Linked DNA regions of Homo sapiens. The protein of the gene in region 2 purifies or fractionates together with the protein of the main gene of each other region. This does not show direct contact. Each region holds a gene or a part of one and is shown on either strand. Other genes may lie near its edges.

Region 1 (3,500 bases), on a different chromosome or scaffold from region 2:
GTGGTCACCATGAGCTTTCTGAATTTGAAGGGTTCTCTCTATTTTCTGAATTTGCTTTTTTAAGGGTTGGTTAGGTACACTTGCTATACCATATGTATGCACAGCAGCTTTAACTTCCACATCCCAATCCACACATTCTTCCATCAGACCAGAAGGAATGGGATCTACATAAAAAGGAAGAAAAATGTATTAAAATTCTCAAGCTACTCTAGACCACTGTTTTCTGAATGATTTCATAAAGTTTTCTATGATCAAATACATTTAAGAAACAATATGCAAATATACTAAGATGTTTAATAGATATAACATTTTTAAAGACTGAAGCAATCCTGTAATAAAGAAACCTGCCTAAGAAATATGTAAGACCCATCCCATACTCACAAGCACTATCTCCCCTCACTCTCACTAGAAAAAGAGCTTACTCTAGGAGTAATGTACAAGCCTGCAACAATTCTCCCATCTTTTCTCTCCTCCCTCTCCACAGCCCCTCCCCTTTATCTCAATACTTCTGACAGCAAAACAAGATATTAGAAAATGGATTGTGCTCCCCAAAGCTTATCAACTAGGAAATAATACAACTGCAACTCTGTACACCCAACTAAATCTGTCACCCAATATTCCAACAGGGAGAAATCACTGCCCTTAACAATAAAGAGAAAACCTCTATAGGGGAAAAAACTAGATGACTATGAAAAGATCTGTGACTATGAAAATCAGAAATGACATTTCTAATTTTTAAAAAATTTGCTGGCTTCAACCCTCTAAATTTTCTATTCCATCCAGGTGTGACAATTTGCTTCCCACACTCAGACCTTTCAAAGTGTGATCAATTTTTGTCTTAGGCAGACAAGATATATCAAGCCCCTGCTTTACAAAGATCTTGCCTGTTGTTGCTATTTATGCTCCATGTTATCTATAAATCCCACAGGTCTGGATACTTCAATGAAGTCTCTTGATCCTTTGCTGAACAGATTCTATGATTAAAACTCTCATTCCTACTCAGTTGATATCCCTTGCTTGCCTAGTCCTATAATACAGGCCAATTTCCCTCCTAGTTCTGCCCCAGGAAACTCATCTGAACATCTGTTGTTACACAAGTTCCCAGTCCAATACAGACCTAACAGCATGAATATCATTTTCTCATGATTTCAGGGCCCTATTAACATTACATAAAGATCCAAATATATCATTTTCCAGTATCCAAAGGCAATTTTTATCACTAGATGCTATGATATTGAATCCTACAAGAAGTCTTAACCCTCTTCTACCAATTTTCAATTTTTTTCCCATATCAGACTACGAATAGACTTATACACAGAAAGAACTGACAGTTTTAGAACTGACATAGAGCCTAAAGACCATTTACTCTAAAGTACTTTGCAAATCAGGACTCTAAGCTTACAGCAATTACAGAGATTTGTAAAAGATCATAAAATGAGTTATTACTAACCCGATCTACTAGAATACATAGAACTCCCAGATCTGTGCTTAATCTAGCTCTGTAAAATAATTAAATATAAAGTCGGTAAAATACTCAATTATATTTATTCAATAACTACATATCCTATATTCTGCAAAGTCATGTATATACTATATGTGTATTTTTCTTTTTTTTTTTTGAGACTGAGTCTCGCACTTTCGCCCAGGCTGGAGTGCAATGGCGGATCTTGGCTCACTGCAAGCTCCACCTCCCAGGTTCATGCCATTCTCCGGCCTCAGCCTTCCAAGTAGCTGGGACTACAGACACCCACCACCATGCCCGGCTAATTTTCTGTATTTTTTTTTAGTAGAGACAGGGTTTCACTGTGTTAGCCAGGATGGTCTTGATCTCCTGACCTCGTCATCCGCCCGCCTCAGCCTCCCAAAGTGCTGGCATTACAGGCGTGACCTATATGTGTATTTTTCTATATAGACATACATCTATATATGAATAGACACTATTTATAGTGCACATTTTCTGTATAACATGCACGTCAAAAATGCCATATTTCCACTCAAGGGTTTTTTAGAATTTTTTGTTTTTAAGAGATCATTACTAGTTTTAAACATGCGTTGTTTCCAAGAGGGCACTTAAAAAGAAGCAGAACAAATGACTGAACTGAAATCAAAAGAAAACATTTCACTCCAATTTTTCAAAATAGTATTCAAATTAAAGATGCTGTTCTTTCCACATGGTGACAAAGGAGAATATGGCAAGAATTACCTTCACAACAATTTAAGAGGTAAAATATCCCCCCTTGTATCAAAGAATAAAATCAAATTGCAAAGCCACTAACTAATAAAATAGAGCTAACATAGCTCTCATTTTTCTTTCTTTTTTTTTTTTTTGAGACGGAGTTTCACTCTTGTTGCCCAGGTTGGAGTGCAATGGCTTGATTTCAGCTCACTGCAACCTCCACCTCCTGGGTTCAAGCGATTCTCCTGCCTCAGCCTCCCAAGTAGTTGGGATTACAGGCACCTGCCACCACGCCCAGCTAATTTTTGTATTTTTAGTAGAGAAGAGGTTTCACCACATTGACCAGGCTCGTCTTGAACTCCTGACCTCATGTGATCCACCTGTCCTGGCCTCCCAAAGTGCTGGGATTACAGGCGTGAGCCACTGCGCCTAGCCAGCTCTCATTTTTCATGTGCCAGTGGTTAGCTTGCACTCCTCTCCGTGCTACTTACTAGCTGTAACACCTTTACTTACCCTCTCTATGTCTAAATATCCTCATCTACAAAACAATTGCACACACCTCATAGGAGTGTGGTGAGAAGTAAATGAGTTAACGTACATACAGGACTGGGAACAGTACCCAGCACATCATAAGCACTCTGTTAGCTATTATTATCATTTTTATTATGCTTATCACCACTATAATTATTTTGAAATAATGAAACAGATGAAATGTACCTGGTAAAGGGAGAAGGTTGATATTACATTTCTGGGCAATTCTCATCATCATATTTTCTTCCTCTCCCCGGCAACAGTAGGTCACTGTCAGCCCCAATGTACCTAAAAGCAGAGAGAATGTTAGGTAGTAAATCATTTTCACAAAAATAATATTCAAAGCCCACCTGTCACATTATAGATCCCTCCCCTTAAAGAAAGCACTCAAACTTTTTTTTTTTTTTTTACCAAAACGGCCAGCTCTCCCAATCCGATGCATGTATGTCTCCCAATCCAATGGTACATCCAGATTTACAACCAGATTCACCTTCTCAGCATCAATCCCACGAGAAGTCTTGAATTGAAGAAGATAGCAATTATTTGTTTGCATTAACTATACAGCATGGATACCAATGCATATTATATTCTTCCAGTACAGTCAAGAGACAAATTAAGAACTGAATACTGAGGAGCAGAGGAAAAGGAAATTCATTCCTAATGACTAATTTCAAGGACAAAGATAAACATATTAAAGACATTTTTAAGAAAGTATTTTCCTCAGCACTGGAAAGATAATTATCTTCTGGTATTCTTGTTAGATACGCCTACATAAAATAATATATGAAATCTG
Region 2 (3,500 bases):
CATGCGGAATCCATAGTACACCAGGGCAGCCATGCGGTAATACCTGGGAAGGCACAGGGCCAAGGGCTGAGCGGGCCCTAGAAAGGCAGAAGGAGGCTCCCCAGCCCTGCCTGTGCCTACCCCACCCTGGGCACCTGCCCCTTACCTGCTGTGCACCACGATGGCGGCCTTGGGCAGCCCTGTGGTGCCGGATGTGTAGATGTAGAACAGTTTATCTAAAGAAAACAGACGCGAGTGGCTGTCGGGGGCAGCTCAGGGCTGGGCAAAGGGTCACACAAATGGACACCTGCAGGTGTGCACCCTTCAACACCTGTTCCCATCACACCCTTGCTAGGAAGCCTGTTCTGATAACCTCAGATACCATTCAGCTCTAACACCGGCATCCATTCCAACAAATATTTCCTGGGCCCTTGCTCTGTGCTAGGCCCTGGTGGAGAGAGACATCAGTGAGTAAGATGGGCACGGGCCTGGCCCTCTTGGCAGTCACAGCTCAGTGGAACAGTCAGATGAGGACACAGGCAATTCCAATACTAAGCAACAAGTGCCGAGGGAGGGCACAGGACCTGTTGAAACCCAGTAGCCACATTTGGCCCAAGCTTGCAGGAGGGGAGGTGGTGCCAGGTGGGCTTCACGATAAAGGTGACACCTGCCCCAAGTCATAGAGCACAGGGAGGCATTAGCTGCAGGAAGTGGGGTGTTGAGGTAGCTTCCGCACTGCTGAGCATTGATCTGTCCCACTCTGCAGCCCTCGACAGGGATTGCCACGTTAGAGTTTCTATGTGAGGCTCGGCCCTACCAGACTTGAGGTTCCCTGGAGGTCAGGAACTCCACAGGCAGACTCCACGTGTTTAGAATGCCTGCCGAGACACCTCATGCTCTCTGCCTGCCTGCTGTTTGCCAGCCCTAGGCACTATGAGGGCACCAGAGCAACCAGCCAGAGTCCCTGCCCTCAAGCAGCTGACAAATGCACCCAAGAGACCAGATTCACATACAAGAGAGAAGTTAAACAGTGCTGATGACAATGACCAGTTACTGAGCCCCTCCTGCCACACCCTAGCTTCAGGACTGGCCCCACTGTATTTTTTTCAACCCTCAAAGATACCCCATAGAGTAGGTTCTGCTACTGTCCCCAGTTTTATGGCTGTGGGAACTGAGGCTCCAAGGGCAGGGCAGGTGTCAGGGTTCACACAAAGGAAGCAGTAGAACCAGGATATAAACTCGGATCTGACTCGACAGCCCAAGCTCTGAGCCACCAGGCAATGTGGCTTCACAGGAAAGAGAATGAGAAGAGCAGAAGAACCAGGTAGGCTACAGTATAAAAGAAGAGGGGTGAGAGGCTCAGGAAGGCTGCCTGGAGGTGGGGTCAGGGAGGCAGCACAGTGCTGGGAGAGGATCACAGCTGGAGATCCTGAAGTGTCCTGCACTGAAGAGGCACTTGATGAATATACAAAGGGTCTTGCTCCTCACCCACCCTCCCACCCAACCCCAACCAAAGCCCAGACCAGGCAGGTTCCCGGAGTCCACAGGATTCTGCCCATTAGGCATCAATGAAGGCTTGTTCAACAAATCACACTGGACTTTGTGAGCTCCTGTGTTCTCAGCCCTGTATCTGGCACTGATACACATCAGCTCATGTCACCTTCACAGTAACCCTGGAGTGGCCCAGGTTTACTGTCACCATTTTCCAGATGGAAAAAGGGAGGTGACGTGACATGTTCCAGGCACATGGCAAGTTTCCAGAAAAGCCTCCTTCTGGCACTGAGGCCAGTGCTCTGTCCAGGGCCTGTGTGAGAGCCCCTCTATGGGGAGGGGATGGAGCCCACCTGTGAAGCCCTTGTCAGGGCAACTGGGAAGGTGCTTGGGAGCATCTTTCAGCAGAGGGTCCAGGTGTTCTGTGCTTGGAGGCACCGCACCGGGCTCCCAGGAGCCAGAGCAGAAGAGGCTGAGCGAGGGGTCCAGGCTGGCATGGACCTCACAGATGGCTGTGGGGAGACAGGGCAGTCAGCAGGCAGGCCAGAAAACCCCATGTTCCCAGGGACCTCTGCTCCCAGCAGGGCTGGCCATGTTGCTGAGGATACTGGCTGGGCAGGAGGAGAGGCAGTGAAGCAACTGGGCCTTCAGTGTTGACAGGGGCACCGGCAATGGTTCTATTAGCCATGGGCTAACCACAGAGTAGGTCCGCTTTACCTGCATTCCCTGGTCTCACAGCCCTGGGAAGGAGGGACCATTGACAGCCCCTCTTACAGATGAGAAGATTGACGCTCCGAGAATGAGAGGACCTGCTCACAGCTAGAATGTGCTGGACCTGGCGTGCAATGCCAGCTCTACCTCACATCAAGGTCTGGGCTCCCCCCCACTATCCCGCACTACTTACTCTGTGGTGCACCAGATAGAAGGGAGGAGTGCGGGTCAGAGGCCAGTGGCCCTCCATCCCCTTCCGAGAGCGGGAACCTGCTTTCAGGCTCCCCTGCGCACTGCACGGACATCACATAACCCCCACCCCCGGGCATGGAGCAGCGCTGGTCGGCTTGGCCCCACCTTCCTGGCTTCCTCTTGATTTGCCCAACCCTCTCTTCTTCCCTGGCTGCCTTCTTCCCTCTCCCCTTTCAGCACCATTTTTTTCTTTCCTTTCTTTTTTTTTTTTTTTCTTTTGCTTTTTTTAAATAGAGACAGACAGGGTCTCACTATATTGTCCAGGCAGGTCTTGAACTCCTGGGCTCAAGAGATTCTCCTGCCTTGGCCTCCCAAAGTGCTGGGATTACAGGCATGAGCCACTGTGCCTGGCCCCCTTTCAGCATCTTTTTTTTTTTTTTTTTAAGACAGAGTTTCACTCTGTCGCCCAGGCTGGAGTGCAGTGGCATGATCTCGGCTCACTTGGTTCAAGTGATTCTTGTGCCTCAGCCTCCTGAGTAGCCAAGATTACAGGCGTGTGCCACCACACCTGGCTAATTTTTGTATTTTTAGTAAAAACAGGGTTTCACCATGTTGGCCAGTCTAGTCTTTAACTCTCGAGCTCAGGTGACCTGCCCTCCTTGGCCTCCAAAAGTGCTGGGATTACAGGCGTGAGCCACCATGCCAGGCCCCCTTTCAGCATCCTAATGACTTCCCTATTCATTATCCCACAACCACAACAGTGTGGGGAGAAAAAACAGAGTGCTGTGATCAAGCTGAAGATCAAACCCCAGTTCTACCACTTACTAACTGTGTGATCTTGGGTGAGCTCCTCACAAACCCCTCTGAACTCCAGGCTCATCATCCATAAAACCAAGATCCCTACCTCACTCGGTCTTTATAGAGATTAGAGCTGCTCTTGGAAAGCAGCAACCTCAGTACTTTGCAGGTGCCCAATGTGGCAGCAAATAAAATGCAGGCTCTGTGAGGAAAGTGGGGAATTAATTTTGTTCCCATTTTACAGATGAGCTAGATACGGCCTAATTAGTCACAAGGATGATTACCATTGTACTGAGGGGCCACCTAGCATCAGCCATGTTGCTAGTGCT

The links. The genes of interacting proteins can lie anywhere in the genome.
Region 1: the proteins of SLC27A4 (region 2) and DDX20 purify together in Homo sapiens (affinity purification with mass spectrometry; one large-scale study listed by BioGRID and IntAct). This does not show direct contact.

What each region holds. Positions count from the first base shown.
Region 1 is NC_000001.11:111,762,401-111,765,900, reverse strand, and holds part of DDX20 (probable ATP-dependent RNA helicase DDX20), read right to left. Parts: intron 3,225-3,500; coding exon 3,119-3,224; intron 2,996-3,118; coding exon 2,894-2,995; intron 165-2,893; coding exon 1-164.
Region 2 is NC_000009.12:128,347,027-128,350,526, reverse strand, and holds part of SLC27A4 (long-chain fatty acid transport protein 4), read right to left. Parts: intron 1,983-3,500; coding exon 1,824-1,982; intron 216-1,823; coding exon 146-215; intron 44-145; coding exon 1-43. UniProt on the Homo sapiens protein: Mediates the levels of long-chain fatty acids (LCFA) in the cell by facilitating their transport across cell membranes. Appears to be the principal fatty acid transporter in small intestinal enterocytes.